5 separate regions of the Homo sapiens genome follow, and regions 2, 3, 4 and 5 are each reported to be linked to region 1. Evidence: microRNA targets listed by miRTarBase, many of them from high-throughput screens and not tested one by one. Region 1 holds a microRNA gene; each other region holds the end of a gene's coding sequence.

Evidence for each region. The annotated mature microRNA hsa-miR-543 reads AAACAUUCGCGGUGCACUUCUU and lies in region 1 at 2,688-2,709, opposite strand. An mRNA with a match to its seed (bases 2 to 7 or 8) in the 3' UTR can be bound and repressed. Matches are read on the target gene's strand: a 7mer-m8 pairs with bases 2 to 8, a 7mer-A1 pairs with bases 2 to 7 and ends in A, and an 8mer does both.
Region 2: the mRNA of PTPDC1 is a reported target of hsa-miR-543. Seed matches in the 3' UTR shown: 7mer-m8 at 895-901.
Region 3: miRTarBase lists UBL3 as a target of hsa-miR-543. Seed matches in the 3' UTR shown: 7mer-A1 at 2,698-2,704 and 7mer-A1 at 3,598-3,604.
Region 4: miRTarBase lists NDUFB5 as a target of hsa-miR-543. Seed matches in the 3' UTR shown: 7mer-A1 at 517-523 and 7mer-A1 at 632-638.
Region 5: miRTarBase lists ZNF711 as a target of hsa-miR-543. Seed matches in the 3' UTR shown: 7mer-A1 at 2,622-2,628.

What each region holds. Positions count from the first base shown.
Region 1 is chr14:101,030,084-101,034,741 of GRCh38, reverse strand. MIR543 (microRNA 543) reads right to left here and starts at 2,755; the gene lies at 2,678-2,755. It overlaps LOC124903407 (mucin-2-like), which reads right to left. Exons shown (of 5, transcript XM_047432049.1): 5 at 260-4,658. It overlaps MIR495 (microRNA 495), which reads right to left and starts at 987; the gene lies at 906-987. It overlaps MIR1193 (microRNA 1193), which reads right to left; the gene lies at 4,613-4,658.
Region 2 is chr9:94,107,160-94,111,817 of GRCh38, forward strand. It overlaps PTPDC1 (protein tyrosine phosphatase domain containing 1), which reads left to right. Exons shown (of 9, transcript NM_001253829.2): 9 at 669-2,694. The coding sequence ends at 785. Among named protein-coding and RNA genes, the nearest start is that of PTPDC1, 25 kb to the left of the region's middle.
Region 3 is chr13:29,763,430-29,768,087 of GRCh38, reverse strand. UBL3 (ubiquitin like 3) reads left to right here. Exons shown (of 5, transcript NM_007106.4): 4 at 393-470; 5 at 781-3,717. The coding sequence ends at 833. Among named protein-coding and RNA genes, the nearest start is that of UBL3, 85 kb to the left of the region's middle.
Region 4 is chr3:179,623,819-179,627,818 of GRCh38, forward strand. NDUFB5 (NADH:ubiquinone oxidoreductase subunit B5) reads left to right here. Exons shown (of 6, transcript NM_002492.4): 6 at 102-3,829. The coding sequence ends at 222. Among named protein-coding and RNA genes, the nearest start is that of NDUFB5, 21 kb to the left of the region's middle.
Region 5 is chrX:85,270,691-85,275,348 of GRCh38, forward strand. It overlaps ZNF711 (zinc finger protein 711), which reads left to right. Exons shown (of 11, transcript NM_001330574.2): 11 at 1-2,667. The coding sequence ends at 1,138. Among named protein-coding and RNA genes, the nearest start is that of ZNF711, 29 kb to the left of the region's middle.

The DNA of each region.
Region 1 (4,658 bases):
GGGGCGGGGGCTGGGCGCACTGGCTCATGCCTGTAATCCCAGCACTTTGGGAGGCCAAGGTGGGTGTGGATCATGAGGTCAGGAGTTCAAGACCAGCCTGGCCAACATGGTGAAACCCCGTCTCTGCTAAAAATACAAAAAATTAGCTGGGCCTGGTGGCGGGCGCCTGTAATCCCAGCTACTTGGAAGGCTGAGGCAAGAGAATCGCTTGAACCTGGGAGGCAGAGGTTACAGTGAGCCAAGATCGTGCCATTGCACTCCAGCCCAGGAGACAGTGCGAGACTCTGTGTCAAAAAAAAAAGAAAGAAAAAAAGAAAAGAAAAGTAAAGAAAGAGCGGGGCAGGGAGGATTAGGCTCCAGTAAATCACCACTCTGAGAAATCCCATCTCCCAGAACCACAGGGACGCCTTCTGCCACAATTGCTACCCCCAATCAATTCTTCTGTGGAGGTGCGGGTGGCAGTCCCCCAGATGGCATGTCCTCATGTCCCCTTCAGCCATCCCCTCAAGCCTCTGGAGAGAGCGGATGGGGGCAGGGGTCTTCATTGCTTATTTGTTTTTGTTGTTGTGGCAGCTGCTTCCTTTTTTATTTTTTTCTTGGCTGCTATGATCTGAACTCTTCTCAAATGTTGGGGAACGCTTCTCAATGGAGCCTGGAAGTGCATCTCCCCAGCCTCCCTGGCAGCGGGGAACTGGCATGTGGTTGAGGCCTCGCCAACTGTGCCTGTCCGAGAGGTGGGCGTGGACTGAGGACTGAGGACTGAGCATGGTCCCTGAGCCCACCAACACACAAAGTCACCGAGGGGCTGCCAGGACAAATCCTCCATGTACATACCAAGAGAGGTAGTGACACCAGGTCCCATGCTCAGGGTCCCGTCGGGGATGGAGGCACTTCAAGGAGATATTTGATACCGAAAAAGAAGTGCACCATGTTTGTTTCGTCACATATAAAGCGAAAATAACATGGGCAACTTCTTTTCAGGTACCAGAGATGAGCACGTCCTCCCTGCCAGAGGCACACCTGGGCGTGAAGGGACACTGAGGGTCAGGGCGTGAGGGCAGGGCCGGGCAGACGCTGCCAATCAAACTTATGCTCAATTAAGCCTAAAAGCATCAGGTAAGTTGGCTCACCCCAGGGGAGGTGGGGGACATGCTTCGAAGGGCTGGGCTGACACTGAGCAGAGGCGGACAGTCATCACGGATAAAGCAAACCGATCCCAGACTCCCTCTACTTCGGGATCCCAGGAAGTCTTCATGGGCAGAATTCAATAATCAGGGCAGACGGCTTTCGGAATGTTTACTATCAACCCTGCAAATGCTCATGGAGAGCATCACTTCAGAGAAAATGGGATGGTCCTGGACCCAAAAATAGAATCTCCTCCATGAGCCCATGGTTCCAGGAAGGAGATGGGAAGACAAAGATATCGAATCAGGAGAAACAAACCACCAAGGCAGCCCCGGCTCTCGGTGGACCCATCTCTCTGTGCACCTTGCATGGTGCTGACCACTGCACCTCCTCTCTAAAGTGCTCCGGGTTCCCTGGAGGCATGGCTTGGTTCTAAAACACTGACAGTTAAGTGTGAGTTGTGACAAATACAGCCAACCCACAGAGAGCCAAAGGACAGCAGGGGCCAGGAAAGGACAACGGCTTCCCCAAGTCCACATCACTTGCAGGGCAGCCTCCCAGAGAGAGGTGGATTCGAGGGAGAGTGAATCGGGGCAGAAGTTCTGGGGCCCACCATCCATCAGGCCTTCCAGAGAGGACCCAGTGACCCATTGCTGGACACAAAACACGGTAATTGTGCATCATTTGTCAACCATAAATTAAATCACTAAGACAAAGCTTTGAAAGCATAAGTCCATAAGAAAAGTCACCTTCCACCAAAACCCTGCCTTAAATAGGACACTGAAGATAGATAGGCAAACCGTGAGAAACACATCATTGAAAAAAATGCAGGCTTTCCCAGTCACACTGGAAAACACACTGTGGTATCATCTGTTTGTATTGCAAGTAAGATAAGATCTAACTCCAACTGGCTTAAACAAGTAAGGGATTTATAGACGTATATAACTAAAAAGTACAGAGACAGAGCAAGCTTCAGGCAGGGTTTGATCTAGGGACTCAAATGATATCATCCAGGCTCTTCTCTAGGTCTCCAAGATGCCTTTCATGGTACAGACTCCCTCTGCTGTGTCTGCGTGGCACCAAGCCCTCTCCTCTCAGTCCTTAAACGGCTGTGGGACCTTCGAAGCTCACGTCAAAGTTCACTGTCTATTCCCAGCTGAATGGAATAGACAGTGTCTACTCTGGCAGCTATCACAGGAAAGGGAGAAACAGTTTCTTTCCCAGAAGCTGCAGCAAGCATCTCCTTGCCTATCACTGGCCCAGTGGGGTCATGGGCCTATTCCGGAAGCAATTGCAGTGGCAAAGGAGAAGAGATCAAGAGATTCGCTTAAGCCTGGGCTGGTGGAGGAAGTGGGGCAGGGTCAATGCAATCAAAGCACACGGCGGGAAGACGGGAGCTTTCATAAAAAAAAAAAAAAAAAAAAAAAACAAGGAGAAATTTAGGAAGGAGAAAAGACATGGGGTAGGGAGGTCCTGATCAGCGTCCACTACAGGGGCCCATGTGCCTTCCCTGAAGTTGCACCCAAACCAAGACGTCTTCAAGGCAGAATAGGATACTGAAAAAGAAGTGCACCGCGAATGTTTCGTCACAAATAAAGCGAAAAAAACACGGGCAACTTCTCATTAAGTACCGCACGTCAGCACCGTTGACAACACTGCTTCTCCGCGGCTGGTATCACTCCTGCGGGCTTCCTGAGAGCACATGGGTCCTGATGCGCACCGGGCAACCGGTGACAAAGATATGGCCGTGCATACAACCCCCTCAAGACCTGGGAGACATCTAACAGGTCTGCCCCCTCTGCACAGGTGGCATTGTGTCCTGGAGCTGCTTGTGAGCACGATGTGTTCAATTTCTCAATAACAAAAAGTCTCCTCCAGTAGCACAGAATATGACAATGGCACAGAAACAGTGATTTTGCATCCTAAAAGTCCTCCTGAGGATACATGAGGAGGGACCAGGAGAGTCACAATAACTCCCCAGATAAGATGGATGAGATCTACCACCCACCCTTTAGGGACAAACAGCAAAGTGTCTGCCCTGATGGAGCCTCTGAGCCAAGGGAGTCGTCATAGAATGGGTAGCGCAAGGGATTTTTTAACATTTGCCTCAAACAGATGGAATGACCAGGGGTCCTGGCACAGCGTCACCACTGTCGATCAGCCTGAGCCGGAGAAGAGCCCCCGGGGCAGACCGGAAGCTGCGGGTTAGGGAGGGATGAATGAGCAATGAATAAAACCCAAGTTCTCAGGTGGTCCACGTGGACAACTGACTTGGTGGTGGCAAATCCTCACCGGTTCCTGCATTCACACCTCACCACAACCCCCTCCCGGGTGGAGTGGGCCTCCCCGCCCCTTGCCTTGGGTTCGGCCGTGTAATTGTTCTGGTCAATGATCTGTGGGTAGAAATATAGCAGTTCCCAGCCTTGGCCTTAAGGAGTTTCTGCGTTTCTAATTACTTTCTTGTGCCTCTGCCGTAGCCATGGGAGCATACCAAGGCCGGGGTGAGAGCTGTGGGTCCCAACTTCAGCCCTCAGGGCAGGCCTTCTCTCCACAAGCCATCCTAGGTATGGGAGGGAGACTGAGGATGAACGGACCAAGACACACACCCGAAATAGAATGTCTGCTCTCAGACAAGATGTCCACTCCCATACCTCTCCATGGACCTGACGCCAACAGCCCTCCCCTGAAGCGCGTGTCACAGCCGGGACACATCTTCCGCAGTCTGACACTGAGGGCATCCAGGGCATCTGGGGCCTCGTAAGGCAAGCAGAGCTGAACAACAGACAGAGATGAGCAACGGCAACAAAGCCCTTTCCCCAAGCATGGACTGAACGCTGCCCACGAAGCGGCTGGATTCTGAGTGGTCCCAACACAGGAAGGGCTCATCTCAATCACGCTGCCAGCTCCTCAGTCCCCCATCCACGACTCACCAGGAGTGCTGCTGACACCAGTGGCCCTGCCGGAATCTAGCTTCATGTCCAGGAAGTCCTCCTATGGAAAAGAGATGGGCCACGTAGCATTCATCAAACACATGGCAAGCTTTGTCAGACAGCCTCTCTTCATGTAGCACAGAATAAAGTGGCCCTCACTACCACAGCTGTCCCAACGCCTGCCCTGTCCTGCACACACACAACACTCCTCAAACCCTTCCGAGGATAAACCACACCCCTGTACCAGGTCACACACACACCTCCTGCAGTCAGCATGTGGTGTGGGGTGGGACTTTCCCTGATGGGGCACTGAAGCCCAGGCCTCTGCAATCCTGGCATTGTCTGTGGCCAGACTATCAGCCCTCCTGGGCAGGATTTGAAACCAAAAGAGAGATTATTCACTGATGATTGCTTATATTGATTTTAACGAGGTAGGAGGAGGGGGCCCCGAAGGGAAACCCCTCCTAAAATCCTGCAGAGTCCCACGGGCCCCACGTCCTCCCACATCTTCTCCGAAGTTGCCATGTGCACCAAGATGTCATCCCACAGATGGACCGGGCGCTGGTGGATAGTCAAACGGGTGACCTACATCGTAAATGAAGT
Region 2 (4,658 bases), not on the chromosome of region 1:
CCCAGGCTGGTCTCAACCTCCTGGGCTCAAGCAACTCTCCCACCTCGGCCTCCTAAAGTGCTGGGATTACAGGCATGAGCCACCACACCCAGCCAGTTGAGGTTTGTATATATGTGCCAAACATGTTAGACTCATAGATACGCTATCCTATGAAGGTGGGTATCATTATCTCTGTTTTACAAAGGAGGAGATCAAGGTCCAGAGAGGTTGGGTATGAGATGAGGACATGTAGCTGGCAGGTGGGGAGCTGGGCTTCTATTCAGGTCACTCTGACCCTGTCCAGAGTGGCCGTAGGGCCTCTCAGCAGGACGTATACAGCTGATGTGCTGTTTTAATATGGGAAACTTTTCTCTTATACCATCAATGATTAGTCTCAAAAAATTCACTTCACACCCACTGTTGACTTGCTTCATGACTGGGTGTATATAATTAGACTAAATATCCAGGCACTAGATTTAATTTTGGGGTTTTCATTCATAAGTTTGATATTGACATGGTTGGCAGTTCTAATAGTCTTTCAAATAAAATGTGTGAAATTTATTATGTGTATTTTATATAGAGTTTTGTTTGTAAGTCTGTTTTTTTTCTCCACCCCCTCCTTCTCTCAAAATAGAAACTAGTTCAAATTCTTGTTACAGTGTCCTGAATATAAATTTCTTTGTCACCAGGTTAATTTTGATTCTGAAAATGGACCAACAGTTTACAACACCCTGAAGAAAATATTTAAGCACACGCTGGAAGAAAAAAGAAAAATGACAAAAGATGGCCCTAAGCCTGGCCTCTAGCTTTCACTCGTGGTGAATATTTCAGACCTAAAGATCCAGATAGTATCTCTGTTCATATGTGAATAAGTTGAAGATTGTGGGGCTACTTTTTCTCATAGCACTTTATTTTGAATGTTGTTAGTTTGTGCTGAGAATGGTCGTCCGTATTTGAACCAATTATTTATTTTAAAATATATTTAAGCTACATTTTTGTTTTGAAAAATTGCCATAAATTTGGTGCCACTTTCTTTTATTTATTTGACTGAGTTAATATTATTGTATTAACATTTTAAGTATATGGTGTTTACATTCTTATTTCTTTTGACATTTTGGAAATAATCATAACTTGTCTTTCCAAAATAACCATTTTCTTGATGGAACTCTTCCTAGAGTTTTTACCAAATAGCTAACTTTAGTAGTAAAACCTCATTGTGTATCCATTCCCCCACAGATGAACTAAGAAAGTCACCAAGTGTCTTAAGCTGTTTTATATTTGTTACGAAGAAGGCTATTGCTACAATATTTTTAAAGGTTTCTTTTTTAACTTTGAAATTTTTTGTTTTTCCTTTTCTTTTTATAAATGTAACAGAGGGTTTCAAAGCATATTATTTTTCAGAGAGATTTAGTTTTACTTTAATGGAGTGACTGTGAAGTGGTTGGGATTTTTTGCTTGTAGAAAGTAGACTTGCTCTTTGTCAGATTTCCAAACAACCTTGCCAGCCTTGGCTGTCAAAAGGAGGCAGGAGCAGTTCTCAACACACCAAGCCTTATTCCCACTCCCTTGGGTTGCTGCTGAGCCAAATAGCATCTTTACAGAGGAAGTGGGATCAGAGGCAGGAAGTGTGGAAAGTTGCTAAGAAGCAGGGCTTGCCTCTGTCCTCCCGGGGACTCCACAGGGATATTCGTGCAGGGCAGGGGCTCTGTGCCAGCCCTGCTCTCTCAGATGCCACAGCCACTCTGCAGAGGTGACTCTTGGAGCTGGAGGAAGTCAAAACTGGGCCACTGTTTGTACTGATGGTGTATTAGCATGAGCAGCGTGGCCCTGGCCCCACACTCCCAAATCTGCCACTCCATAGACCCACTTGCCTCAAGGCTTTATATTTGGCTGCTTTCTTACAATGAGAATTAAGATTTTTAAACTGAAGTTGACCATACAGGTTGCATTAGCCCTAACTGGCTTCATGTAAGAAGGGTGACTGCCTAAACTAGTTCCTTGTAAGCTGAACCATCAATTATCAGTTGAAGCCATACTTTTATTTAAATTAATATACGTAGATACCAGAGGCCAAGCCACAGAGAGGATAATAGTTCTTCCCAATAAAGGTGATATTAATCAGACTAATTTCGAACTAAAGAAGTTACTGCTTAAAGACGGAATTTCAGGGGAAGCAAGACTCATTTAGAACAAATGAAATTTCTCCAGTCCTACATTTCTGAATTGACTTCTAGCACATCAAAAATATTTCAGTCATTATCAGTCTCATTAACTGAAATGCCAAATGCTAAATGCAGTGTTCTTTCACACTGTTTTAATTTTCTTGGGAAATTGAGTCCAGTGGATGTTAATGGAGTGGGTTGCCCATCCCTGAAATGTCTTATTTTCAAGTGCCTGGCCTGGGAAAGAAGGGGAAGAAACAATTGCATTATATCCAAAGATACACTATAAAAATAGAGTTTTTACCAAAAAAAGATGTTTGTTCTCATCTCAGTAGGCCTCATTTGGGCAAGTGACCCACAGGTCTTTTGGCGAGTTTGCTATTTGCCTGTTGAAATACTTGTTTCAACTTAGAGAACAGTTATGATGTGACCATAGCATGGCACAACTAAAAATCTAAGCCTGAAACCTGAAAAAAGAGATATGACAAGGGAAATTAATCAGGCTATACATAAGTATTGTATTTATTTGAATAAAAATAAAAAGAGCAACCCATAATCCTAGTCCTGTACTTCTTTACCTTGATGCTCTAGGACATCTGATGATAAAGACAAGGTTTTGTCTTAGATTATCCTAATAGGCAGATTGAGTTGTCGGCTGATTCAGTGAGCCAAGCTCTAGTTAGTGCAGACTCCTTCCATCAGTTCAGCATGACCAAACACTGGGGGGTTGGGATAGGTGAGTTCTAAGAGGAATAGCTGGGGAAAATCTCCAAGCTGACAAGATTCCTAACTTCCCATATTTGGATGAGGAGTTCTTTGTAGCCCAGAGGACAGAAATCTCACATATTGGGAGAAGTGATAAGGTTGAAAAATTCAGTTCAACAGAAATAGGAAGGTTAAGGGCACACACATATTAAGAACTTACCATGGGCCAGCCGTATCCATTACCTCACTGAATTATCTTGACAGAAGTCTTTTTTATTTCATTTATTTATATATATTTTTTTGAGACGGGGGTCTCGCTCCGTAGCCCAAGCTGGAATGCAGTGGCATGATCTTGGCTGACTGCAACCTCCGCTCCCAGCCTGAAGCCATCCTCCCACCTCAGCTTCCTGAGTAGCTGGGACTACAGGCACATGCAATCACATCTGGCTAATTTTTTGTTTTTTTGTTTTTTTGGTATTTTTTGTAGAGATAGGGTTTCACCATGTTACCCAGGCTTGTCTTGAACTCCTGAGCTCAAGTGATCCTCCCACCTCGGCCTCCCAGAGTGCTGGGATTACAGGTGTGAGCCACCGCACCTGGCCTCAGAAGTCTTAATCATAACTGTGTGACGTGAGATGTGGAGTCCAATGGACCCCGTGCTGTGCCCTCCTCTCTGCTCATGTTACCTGCCTATAGGACTCTTAACCTGGCAAAGCTGCCCGTCAAAGTGCCTTCTCAGGGACCTTGAGGTCCCTTTAGCACTAAATTTTATGATGGCATTAAGAGAACACTGTGCTGTCCATAACTTAGTGAAAATATCACACATCTGTCCTGGAAAAGGCTGAACCAGCTCTATTATTATCCTATGATGTTCTCTAGTATATCACACTTAGAGGAAGTACATGATTTCTTGCCACTGTTGCCTTTTCTTACTTCAGAGAGCTTACTAATGCCCTTTGAGACAAATTGCTGCTGGTGGTAGAGCTCGCTTCATTTATTTATGTAACTCAGAAAATCTGTGCTGAGTTACTTAGTCATATCTTCATCCAGCTTGCCAGTCTTATCTGAGAAAAAGTACTTGCTTCATCGTTCTGGATTCCATGAAAACCACCATATATCATAATTCAACAGAGGTAAAGTGTCTCTATTTTCTCTTAAATGGAGAATGCTTGCTGATATGATTGGGTGCTATTTCAGGCTAGTCTCCACATGTCCGAAAAAATATCCAGGGACAGTGTAATGTAGATAGAATGCAAGCCCCAAGTTCTTGACATCTGACAGCCCCATGTAATTTGGGGGGTCAATTTAAAAATGACAGCTTACTCATAGGATCTTTATTATTATTCCAAATTAGCAAGCATTAATATATTTTCAGTGCAGGTAAATCAAGAACAATGTTCTCTTTGATGCTTTTTATGAATGGCACAAGATTAGCATGTTACCTAAGAGAGCTTTTCTCAATGCTAGATGGCTGCAAATTGTTTATAGATAAAGTAGCAGGAGAAAAATTCAACAAAATCCTGTTTCTCAGTGGGTCATTATTTTTTTAGTTATGCTTTTAGGCATGAGCTAATCTCTGATTACCTCAACACTGACAATAAAACTGATTTATAAATAATCACAATGGAACCATTCAGTATTGGAGCTTGACAAGCCTTTGTTCAAAGCCCTTCAGTCACTAAAAATAATGTCCCAATAAGACTTAAATGTCATAAAACCTTTTGCAACGAAAATAAAAGTTTCATACATCCACTGAAACTTGTACAGTAAGAGAAGCCTGCTAAGCCCTTACCTCTCGGCTTTCTTGATTAA
Region 3 (4,658 bases), not on the chromosome of region 1:
GCAATAGACAAGTAATTAGATTTAGAAATGAATATCTCTTAATCTAAACTTTTACCTAATATAGAAAAGAGTATTCTTTTAAAAAAAATTTAATCCTTTCTCCTCTAAAGGTGGCCTCTGATATTAGCCAATTACATATTTTTTCTTATATCATCTCTTAATATGGATAAATGTGTCAAGCAAATGGCTATATAACTGCAAAAAATAATTTCTAAATTTTAAATGTTATTTCTGATAATATTAACCTAATTTTGTGAAGGTACTCTGAGTTAAGTTGAATCTGTTAAAGAAGTCATAAAAAAGCAATCAATTTTTAAAATGGTTTTAAATCTGGATAGTGATTTTAATAGGTCGATATATGTGTAACTAATCATCTTTTGCTTTTCACATAGCATTAAAACTTCCTTTTGGCAAAACAACAGTGATGCATTTGGTGGCCAGAGAGACATTACCAGAGCCAAACTCTCAAGGTAAGCCATGCACTGGAAAAGTATCTCAGTTGAGGCACAAAGACAGGCATTCAAAAATGCTAGGTTTTTCTTGGATATGCTGAGGGAAGGGAAGTTTGCATAGTTTATGAATAGAGATTGTCAAGCAAATAACCAGACATTTTTGAAACATGCTAAAATTAAAAGAACATTTATTACAGCTTCTTAATTTTGAAAAATGCAAACATTTTTAAAAACTCAAAACTACTACTTCCTACACTTGATTGCCTAGCCCATTTTCCCCTCCAGTTCTAGAATTTTTATAAACGAGGCTCTTCTTCGTTTTCCCTAGGTCAGAGGAATCGTGAGAAGACTGGAGAGAGTAATTGTTGTGTAATCCTGTAAACACTGTCTGCCTAGTGTGATGTGATATAGTCTTTGTCTTTCATGCTGCTGGGACAGAAAAGACCCGACATTGCTTCAGAAACCGTTCAGAACAGTCTGCCTGTAAACACATGGAACTGAATTACCACATGAACACTGTCATCTTTTCTCATGAAAGTAAAAAGAACCAAGAACATTTTTCACTCTGATTTTTTATTTCTTGTATTTTTTGTTGAGCTGTTTTAACACATATTGGTTTTTGAATGCAGTCAATCTCCAGGGGAAAAGTTAACAAGTTATCTTTCGTAGCAGAAACCATTTTGCTGCCACAAAATTTTCATCATCAGAACTAATAAATCAAGTGTTCCAAATACAATTTGCATTAAAAAGATTGGCATTATTTTCCTCATCAGCAGAATTTATAACAGTGTGTGGTATCTAGAAATACTTATATATACAATTCCACACTGGAAGACACTCAGCAATTAATGAAGTTAATTACTGGGCCAACTTGAGAGGAAAAAATGGAAAAGAAACTAAAATGTTGGGTGAATTCTACCAAAGTCAGCCGTGGTGGCTGCACTGGCACAGAATACTAAACTGAGTGTGACTATTTTCACTGCAACAAATGAAAAAACAAAATGTGCCTGTTTAAAGCACTCAGTAGAGGGCTGATGAAACTAATTTTTTTTCCTTTAAGACATGCACTCTTGAGTCCTACAGTAACTGAGTGTTTGTTTAGACAGCACAAGAAGGGGTGAGAGTGCGTCTCCTAGCCTTAATGTGGGAGGGTAGTTTCAGTCACTCATCGGCTTTCATTATTGTGCAGAAATATTAGAAAACCTCATTGATCAATTTTATGTATTTGAATATCAGCAAATTGAAATTTTCCATAATTATCATTAATTTGTAACCACATCCAGTGTCATGCTTACTCCTTAGAGTTCAGATGAATTCTTAAAATTAAAAAAAAACTCCATAGTACTAATTTTGTTTCTTTATATAGTTTGCGTTTGATATTAGTGCTTGCAATTGTATTAAAGTCAAAAGCTGATTTTTATGGCATACACAAGAATGCCACTTTTTCTTTTATTTCATACCAATAATTTAAAGATTGATATGCTAAAAACAATTTGCACAGCACTAAAGCATGAGCTACTTTCATCTAAACCTGTAAAAATATGAAAGATTTTTATATTTTTTCACTGGGAAGAAATTCTTCCTGGATGAAATTACAAATATGTGTAGAATATATTTAATAAAAGACTTATAAAATACCTAACTACAGGACTTAAAATATAGATTGGCGCGTAGTATACAGAACAATATTCCATATAAATAAGTTTAGCCTTTATAAAAATGAAGTTGCAGGCTGACATTACATTCTGTACTAAGTGTCAACAGCCCTTACAAACATTAAATGTAAATGGTTTCAAATGGTCAGCGTTGTTTAAATGTAATCATGTTATTTTATTCATTGTTAATGCTTTGATGAAAAGGCTTTATATGCAGTAGATCTACGAAAATATTGTTCATACTGATCAGAATTAAATTTGTATAGAGCAGAGTTTTAAAATGAATGTAAATAGCACTAAACGTTTTCTTTCTGCAACCTGTACTTACAGATTCTTCCTGTAAACTAAATAAAAAAAAAATGATAGTGCATTTTGGTGGTAATTTTAAAGGTCTTGATTAGGTCAATAATTGTTTAAGCACCGTCTCATTCATGTTTTCTACTTTCATTTCTTAAGCTTTTAAAATTCATTTAATTAATATTCTGTTGTTGTTTTGGGGAGTATTCCCAATGTATCTTTGATATTTAACCTGGTTAATTTGTGGACAGTCACAACAATGGATAGAATTATGTAGTCTCCGTTATCACTAAAATGTTATCTTCAAGAGATGTTAAATATTTATATGCTTTGTTGACTAGCTGAAATGTGAATTCTGTTAGTGTTGACTAAAGAATCTGGTAGTTGCTTAATTGGGCAATTAAACAATTTATGGCTCTATTTTGTAAAACAAACTACTGGTAATTATTTTTAATACCTATTTTCATTCTGATTACTCTTTTTTTAAGTTAAAGACTATCAGTTAATTAAGATTGAGTTTTTATGATGGTTAAAAATAATTCTCTATTGGTTTTTCAATATATTTTTCTGTGTGTTCTCAGATTATATATTTCCCTCAATTTAGAGTTTGCTAAGTGAAATAAACTGGTTCACTAGTAGAGAAAGAATTACGTCGCTTAATACCTAATATCATAGTTGTACAATATGAAAAAAAAGAATAAAAAGTAGCAGTAAAATTATATACTGAAAACACCAAAAATTTAGATGCCTTAATAGTATATACGTGAAATACTCAGCTGTCCCTTTAAAAATAATTCCTTGGACTGCCTGGTGGTTAAAATACGATTCCTCATATCCAAGGCTACTTTTGAAGATCCCTCTGCCAAAAATATAGCTCACTTATCTAAAGGTGAGAGCTGCATAGATCCAGTAATGTACATAAAGCCTGAATGATGAGCCTATGTCCCTGCCTAACGCTGGTGTCTCACTCATCTCTTTTACCTAAATTGTCCTGAACTTTGTTAAGTGTTCTGGACAAGGCCAAGCTTTTCTTTATTAAAACCTCAGCATGTCTCCCTGATCTGAACTATTTGCTTTCTCTTCAAGATAAGTTGTATTTTACCATGGAAAAATACAGTATCTAACATTACCATTCACGTTAAATGAAGTTTCCTCATAACATTTATCTTTAGTTTTATGAAGTCATCGTGACCAATGTTACAGTAATTTCTGTTAGCTGATTGTGGTAAACAATGTTTAATGTGAAAAGAAATTAAAACTTTCTTCATCTGTTGTAGAATATTTCTCTTCTTTAAAATGGCTTCTATTCATAATTCTGGTGTATTTGCCTATTCTTTATTTCACTACTGTTTATGTCTTTTTTTCTTTCTTCAGTTAATGATACTCTTCAGTAAAAATCAACATTGAGCCAGCCTTTGCTATAGTTTAGCAAAATCAAAGGGAAGTATCAGCCAAAATTTAATATGCCTTCATACCGTTTTTATTTGTAACTTTTTCGAGCATTCCAGTTTGTTTTCCATTTTTGTGTTATAATATGGTCACTTGTTAGCCAAATGGAGTGATTGGGGTGGAGTGATTGGGGTGGGGGAGAAGGCACATGACCTATAATTACAAACACAGCTATAATTGAAACACAGCTGCAGGCTGTGCTGGAGTCTAGGCACAGTTTTTGTGGCCAGGGTAGGGTGGGGTTCTTGGGTGTGAGCAGTGGTAGTTGGGTGTGACTCCTGGCTTACCCTGACCCCCTGCCAGTTGGTGTGTTTCCTTCAGAAGGCAGTGGCTTCTATGAGGCTTTTACACAGGAGGTGGTTGACTTCTGAAAGAGATCATGGATAGAACTAAATGAGAAACACTTAGTTCTTAAATATCAGAGTTTAAAGCAGTACTGAAATGTGAAAACCAATTTCACTTACTACATTATTTTATAGTCTTCGACAGTGATGTCAGATGTTTGTCTTTTAATATTTTTCATATTCCTCTTTTTCAAAATGACAGCTTTCAAGAAATATGGAGTAGGCATAGTAAATTCCCATTTGGGGAAAGGAAATGCCCATCTCTTCCACGTGAGTCAACCAATAAAAAAGGAGTTGGGTAAACACATTTTCTAAAATGGCTCTGGAAGTGGTTTGTTGTTAGAAGTCTTAGAAGAGTCTGGCTGGTTTTAGAATGTAGTAATTACACATTCAAACATTATTTGGTATCTTTTATTTTCTACACATGTTCTTGAAGCTTATTTGATGTAAGGGAAGTCTTA
Region 4 (4,000 bases), not on the chromosome of region 1:
ACATAAAAGCAGACTCCAGTGATTGTCCTTTATGGAAATGGCTCATTAAATTTATAATTGGAAGTGCTGGAATCTCAATATTGCTGTTCCATTTGTTACAGGGTAAAGGAGCTGGAAGTGCGAAAATTGATGCATGTGAGAGGAGATGGACCCTGGTATTACTATGAGACAATTGACAAGGAACTTATTGATCATTCTCCGAAAGCAACTCCTGACAATTAAGCATTTTTTTCTCCAAATACAAAGTATATTCTCTTTATTGGAAAATAAATTAATAAATATATTCTGTATTTTTGCTCTCCGTGAAAAACAAAAGAGCCTCTGACATTACTGTCTCTCAGTGTTGGTTCAGATTGAGGCTTTTGTTTGAGGAGTTTGGCTTCCAGTCCCCAAAGAAGGTTTAAAATGTACTAATAAAAACTGGAGAAATAGGAATTTGTGAACTCCTAAAATTGTAGCAACTTTGAAAGGTTAGTGTTTTATTTACCTGACAAATGGAAGTTATAGAAGTCTAATAATGTTAAGCACCAGTAATTATAGTATTTTGTACAAATGCCTGTACTGTAGATGTCTGTATTATTGAGGGGCAACTCAGGATTTTAAGTTCCATAAAGTATTGAACCAACTCTAAAATGTTAACTCCTTAATAAACAGATTCTCAGTAAACAAATTTTAAAGTTTATAATGCTTTCATGGTTTTTTTTTTTGCCATGTATTGTTCTTTTTTAAACTACACACAGACACACAGACACGTACACACACACACACACACACACACACACACACGCTCTTTTCCTAGATGCAATCTCTGGGATCCCTTAGAGTCCTTTTTTGGGGAAGTAGTTGCACTAGGTAATGTGATTCCTGCAGAGATTATAAAATGTGAGTAAAAGCTAAAAATGACTCATTTATTAAGCATTTATTGTCTGCTAGACACTATATTAAATAACTGCATTTTTTAACATTATTTTCTTTTCTTTTTTTTTTTTTTTTTTTTTGACGAAATCTTGCACTGTCACCCAGGCTAGAGTGCAGTGCCGTGATCTCGGCTGCAACCTCCGCCTCCCGGGTTCAAGCAATTCTTGTCTCAGCCTCCCAAGTAGCTGGGATTACAGGCACCCACCACCACACCCGGCTAATTTTTGTATTTTTCAGTAAAGACTGTTTCGCTGTGTTGGCCAGGCTGGTCTTGAACTTCTGACCTCAGGTGATTGGCCTGTCTCCACTTCCCAAAGTGCTGATTACAGGCCTGAGCCACTGCACCCAACATTATTTTCAAAATGACAAGAGGTAGTATTTAGTACCTGAGGCTCAGATGTTAAACACAAACTCAGTATTTACAAAAATAAACATTTAAAACATTTACACTTCAACTTCCAAAATGGCTTTTTACCATAAACATTCAGGATTTTCAAACCTGTAACAGCTTATCAATGCATCTCATCTTAGAAGTATGTTTTACATTCTTCATAAAAATAAAAATGAACCCAGGCTTCCTAAGATTCAGGCCAGTGGGTCTCCACTTAAGGCCAAATGGAGAAATAATTTTTTGCTGCCTAAACACACAAGTGAATTGAAAAGCCACAGGCCATTCATTCAACAAATAACTTTATTATTTTTATTGATAATGTACTTGTAATGTGCTATTTTGATACATGTATGCAAAGTATAATGGTCAAATCAGGGTATTTGAATATACATATATTTCAAAATATAGTTATATATTTCAAAATAAGATATAGCAAGTTAGAAGTATATATAAGTATATTATTATATGTTATTGTTAACTATAATTTACCTACTGTACTATCAAATACTAGAACTTATTCCTTGTATCTAAATGTATTCTTGTAACCATTAACTAACTTTTCTGAATTTCCTACTCTCCCCTTCCCTTCCCAGCCTTGTAACCACCTTTCTACTCTGCCTCCATGAGACCCATTTTTTAATCTCCCACATATGAGTGAGAACATTCAATATTTGTCTTTCTAGGCTTGGCTTATTTCACTTACATTAATGACCTCCAGTTCCATCCATGTTGCTACAAATGACAGAATCCCATTCTTTTTCATAATATTGTCCATACATACCACATTTTCTATATCCATTTATCTGTTGATGGACACAGGTTGCAAAGGGATTGCTGGATTGTATGATAATTCTATGTGTAGTTTCTTGAGGAACCTTCATGGTGTTCTTCATAGTGGTTGTACTACTGTACATTCCTACCAATGGTGGATGAGCGTTCCCCTTTCTCCACATCCTCACAAGCATTTGTTATTTTTTCTTTTTTTTCAAATGAACATTTTAACTGGGGTGAGATATCTTAATGTGGTATTGGTTTACATTTCCCTAATTATGGTTGAGCATTTTTTCACATATCTAATGGCCATTCATATGTCTTCCTTTGAGAAATGTCTATACAGATCTCTGGCCCTTTTTTTAAATTTTTTTTTTTTTTGAATTGGGGTCACCCAGTCTGGAGGTGATCTGGGCTTCCACATCCTGGGCTCAAGTGATCATTCCACCTCAGGATGACCCAAATAGCTAGGACCAAAGGCGAGTGCCACCATGCTCAGCTAATTTTTTTGTATTTTTTGTAGCGACTGGGTTTCACCATGTTGCCCAGGCTGGTCTTGAACTCCTGTGCTCAAGTGATCCGCTCACCTTGGCCTCTCAAAGTGCAGGTACTTTAGGCGTGCCTGGCCTTTTTGTCCATTTTATTTTTTTGAGATGGAGTCTTGCTGTGTCACCCAGGCTGGAGTGCAGTGGTGCGATCTCGACTCAGTGCAACCTCCGCCTCCCAGGTTCAAGCAATTCTCCTGCCTCAGCCTCCTGAGTAGCTGGGATTACAGGTGTGCACCACCACACCCAGCTAATTTTTTTGTATTTTTAGTAGAGAGGGGGTGTCACCATGTTGGCCAGGGTGATCTTGAACTTCTGACCTTGTGATCCACCCACCTTGGTCTCCCAAAGTGCTGGGATTACAGGTGTGAGCCACTGCGCCCAGCCTGTCCATTTTTTAATCAGGTTATGGGTTTTTTGCTATTGAATTGTTTGAGTTCCTTATATATTCTGGTTATGAATCCCTTGTTAGATGGTGTGTTAGGCCATTCTTGTGTTGCTATAAAGAAAATCCTGAGTCTGGGTAATTTATAAAGAAAAAAGGTGTAAATGGCTCATAGTTCTGCAGACTGTACAGGAAGCATGGCACCAGCATTGCTTGGCTTCTGGGGAGGCCTCAAGGAACTTTCACTCATAGCAGAAAGCAAAGCAGGAGCAGGCACATCACATGGCAAGAGAGCAAGAGAGAGAGGTGGAGGAGATGCCACACACTGTTTTAAACAACCAGATCTCTCAGGAACTCATTGTTGTTAGAAAAGGAATTAAAAGAAATCAAAGAGTGTGTAAGCAGAAACTCAGTTGTACGTAAGAAAACCCAATTCCCCCTGAGAAAGAGAAAGAGCTGGAGTCCTTTAAAAATTCACTGCCTGTTTTTCTGGTGGCTAGTGAGTGTTAGCTCTCCTCCCTTCCCAGGCATTGTGAAGACCCTGTTTCCCTAGCTGTGCAGCTGCAAGGTCACTAGACAGATAAACTCAAGTCGCAAAACATGTTTTTCCTTGAAAAGTAAGAAATGATGTAATGCATGTCTTGACTGAATAACTGTCTTTGTTTCTTGCTTCTGTAATATGCTTCCCCCTGCACAGATCTCCCCCTGCCCCACGAAATGCTTAAAAGCTAACTTAACTCTTTGTTCAGGGCTCAGTCCTTTGGATGTTAATCTGACTGGGCCGGAGCACCTAAATAATAAATATTCTCCTGAACCCCATCGGTCTCTCTGATTCCTTAAAAATCCTGCAACATTGTGAGGACAGCATCAACAGGATGATGCTAAACGATTCGTGAGAAATTTGCCATTATGATCCAATCACCTCCCACCAGGCCCCACGTCCAACACTGGGAATCACATTTCAACATGAGAGTTGGGGGGACGAATATC
Region 5 (4,658 bases), not on the chromosome of region 1:
CCCTTGCCATATTTGCACAAAAAAGTTTAAATCCAGGGGATTCTTAAAAAGACACATGAAGAATCATCCTGATCATTTAATGAGAAAAAAATATCAGTGTACAGATTGTGACTTTACAACTAACAAGAAAGTGAGTTTCCATAACCACTTAGAAAGCCATAAGCTCATAAACAAAGTCGACAAAACCCATGAATTTACAGAATACACACGAAGATACAGAGAGGCTAGTCCACTGAGTTCCAATAAACTTATTTTAAGAGACAAGGAGCCGAAGATGCACAAGTGCAAATACTGTGACTATGAAACTGCAGAACAAGGACTGTTAAACAGGCATTTGTTGGCCGTTCACAGCAAGAATTTTCCTCATGTTTGTGTTGAGTGTGGGAAGGGTTTTCGACATCCTTCTGAACTCAAGAAACATATGAGAACCCATACTGGTGAGAAGCCATATCAGTGTCAGTATTGTATTTTCAGGTGTGCAGATCAATCAAATCTGAAAACTCACATTAAGTCTAAACATGGTAACAATTTGCCATATAAATGTGAGCATTGTCCCCAAGCATTTGGTGATGAGAGGGAGCTTCAACGCCATCTGGATTTGTTTCAAGGACATAAGACACACCAGTGTCCTCATTGTGACCATAAGAGCACCAATTCAAGTGACCTTAAGCGGCACATCATATCTGTCCATACTAAGGATTTTCCTCACAAATGTGAGGTCTGTGATAAAGGTTTTCATCGTCCTTCTGAGCTCAAAAAGCATAGTGATATCCATAAGGGTAGGAAGATTCATCAGTGCAGGCACTGTGACTTTAAAACATCCGATCCATTTATTCTTAGTGGCCATATCCTTTCAGTTCATACTAAAGATCAGCCATTGAAATGTAAAAGGTGCAAGAGAGGATTCAGACAACAAAATGAGCTAAAAAAACATATGAAGACCCATACTGGAAGGAAGATTTACCAATGTGAGTATTGTGAATACAGCACTACAGATGCATCTGGCTTTAAACGACATGTGATATCAATACATACAAAAGACTATCCACACAGGTGTGAATTCTGCAAGAAGGGATTCCGAAGACCATCAGAAAAAAATCAGCATATTATGAGGCACCACAAAGAGGCTCTTATGTAATAAGATCAATATAAAGAAAGAAGCTATTTAGGAGATATGATATGCTACTTGGGAGAAAACTCTCACTAACTGTCTCACCGGGTTTCAAAGCTTGATACTAAACCATGACTTTACATTCTTTGTATTAAAGATCTTAAAATATTTGAATTCACAGGGGATCCCATAGCCCTTTGAAAATTACTTAAAGAATTTAAGAAGCACTATAGAATGGTTACAGAAAAACTTCTTAAGTATCTGTGTAATAGTATTATATGCATACTTAAACTACAGAGGGGAAAAGCAAAGACAAATACTTTATTTGGCTGATTATGTTAGATACAAATGTTTCTGAGAAGAGAATACATAATTGAGTTTAGTGATGCTTTGCTATAGCAAGCAAACCCACTTTTATGCAATTTTAGAAATGGGGCAGGGAAACAAAATGTGGTCATTCATCAGTCACTTAGTCATTGAGCCTTTTATATTGTACCTGGAAATTAAATTCCAGCAATGACAAAAGTTTTGTGTATTCATTAAAAGAAAACTAACTGGAAAACAGGTTAGATTAATTCAGTACTATTAAAAAAGAATTCAGAGCTGTTAATATTTTATCACAGGATAGGATACTTAAAATATAGCATTCTGTGCTGAGATCTAAGGTGAAGTCTATAAAGATTAAAGTTCCCTTTTTTCTGATGTTCAAGTTGATTGTTGTTCAGTATGGCATATATGACAAAAGTATATTTGAGTCAAATGTGGCTTTCTAAAATGGATGCAACATTAGCGTTGCAAACAAAATCAGCACTATATTTCTTAATGATCTAAAGATTAATTTGAGAGAACACAGTTTTCTTAAATATTATAATGTCTAGAGTTTTTTTAGGACAGTCTTAGCAAGTATGATTGTTCTAGTCTTACTTGCTCTAATGTTTAAAGGTGCAATTTTATGCCATTATTGAAATTGATTTTTAAAATCTATATACCATATGATTAACATGCATTTTCAATATGAGGCAGTGTTTATGCAGTATTTAACAGAGCAATCTGCTGCCAATAGAGTTTGGAGGTGGATATTTAGTTTACAGTGTATAAACTTAAAATATGCATCCCTTTAACAACGCTTTGTGTTAGCATGCTGCAAATCAAAATGGCACTTAATATTAAAAGCTGGTTTAGGGAAATTTTATGAAAATCCTGTTCATAAATGTAATGCATATGATATGTACTTTTAAGTTTTAGTTGCTTCATGTTTACATTCAGCTGTTCAACATAATTAAAATGTAATTTTACTTCATGCTATATTGTGGCTTTGTGTTTCAAATAATGTTCACCTTTCTGTTTTTGCACCAGATAAGAATCAGTTCCTTGAGAATAAATTTTTTATCTTTCTTAACTTCAGAATATTAAATTTGGAATATCTACTAAAATTGTGTGTTATGTGGCTGTAAATGATGTACACGCTGTAAAATAAGATCGCTACTGTTATGTGGGATTATTATTTCTAAATGTTACTCATTGAAATGAGCATACAATAAAAAGCATTTATTGCACTTAATGGTTTTATAAGTTTATTTAAAGTTTCCATATTTTTTATTAAAAGACTTCACTTCAGAGTTACTTAGGCAGATTGGTCCTTTCTTTAATGTCTTGTTGAATTTTGTTCATGAACAACAACATGAACTAGGAATTTAAACAGTTACGATGACTATGTAATGCATATTTCTTAAGAATGTATGTTATTTGCTAAAATCATAATGAAATACTATAAATAAAAGTGTCCATTTTAAGATCTTAGATTTCATATTAGAGAGAAAACTAAAAGTTCTTAACTTGCTTAAATGACACAATCCTGAGCAGTGAATACATCTAATTATGTTCCCAATATACATTCAAAAGGAAAAGTATTGTTGTGTGTATTTGGCAAAGATTTCTGCAAATGAGCATAAAAATAACTTTCTATGTTCAAACCAGTGAGCATTTCATATAATTCTATATATATGGCACTGTTAGTTAAGACTCTTTGTCAGTTGAATTATTAATTATTAATTAATCACTAGCAGAAAAGGAAAATATCAGCCTCACATGTTAGACCAGTGCTTCTTAAATCTAAAGTCTGTAGAGGCTCACCTAGGGAACTTGCTGAAATGCATATTCTGATTCAATAGATTTGGGGTGGGGCCTACAATTCTGCATTCCTATTAAGTTCCCATGTGTTGCCACCATATGAGTAATAAGGTGGTAGACAAAAGCACCTGCTGTAATTCTGCCACATGTTAATTACTTTGCTTAAACAGATAGTTGTGGGTGAGTGGACAGAGGGAATTCTTACTGAGGACATGACATTAGAGCTGAGATATGAGTCGCAAGAAGGAGCTAGCCATATGAAGGTCTTGTGGAAGAGCAAGGCAGAGAAACCTGCAGGTGCAAACAACCTGAGATGCAACAAGCTTTGGCTGGACAATGGTTAGCAAGTGGGAGTGATAAGAGACGGTTGCAGTGATCCGAGATCGCGCCATCGCACTCCAGCCTGGGTGACAAGAGTGAAACTCCGTTTCAAAAAAAAAAAAAAAAAGAGATGAGACCTATGAGAAGTTTGAAACGGGAAGTCCTTGGGAAAAGTTAAGGAAAACAGTGCTGTTACATGTTTTGAAAATCACTCTGGAGGCTCTAAGAAATGTAGAGGAGCTGAACGATGCAGCCATGTTAAGTGGTTACTCTAGTTGTCATGGTTACAGTGGGGCTGGAGAAAAGTATATGGATTTTCTTCTACTTGTATATTGGGCTTAGAAAATGCCAGCCCAGGTAGAGCAGACATGAACTTCCTGGCATAAGGCTTTCCTACATACCAGGACAGATTCCACCTAGAATGTAGATCTATAAGTCAAAGTACCTTCACAAGACAAAGAAAAAATTGGGAATTACTGAAAAATCATTTTTCCAGAACAGTTCAGGGTCATATGTGTAGATGGATTTATCCAATTGTCACTTTTAAATTGCTTATGCCATGATGGAGAAGATAGTATTTGGGAACTCTTACACAGATAGGGCCCTTAAGTTCAACTGCTCCTGTCTCTTACATGACAACCACAAGTTTAGTTTGAACCTTGAACTTCTCTTAAAGATATATATCCCTTTAATTGCAGAAAACCGTGTACAAAAATAGAAAAATATAATGAACCTCTATATAGCCATCACCCAGCTTCAACAATTATCACTTTATGGCTAATCTTGTTTCGTTTGTATTCTTCCTCACTTATCCCTTCATCCACTTACACCTGATTAGCTTATTTTGATGCATCCTTCCCCTACTAGTTTAATTTGTAGCAAATCCCAGACATATTTGCAACAATTTTTGAAGGATATAGCACAATTCTTGACATGCCTACTTCCAAGGGGGAAATGACTCGTCCTCTATGAAGGCAGAGGAACAAAATAATCATCTCATTTAACTCTTTCAACTTCCCCTTGTGAGAACCAAGAAAAAGCTGACTAGGCTTGGAATTATATACAGTACGATTTTTTTGAACTAATAAGGCTTTAG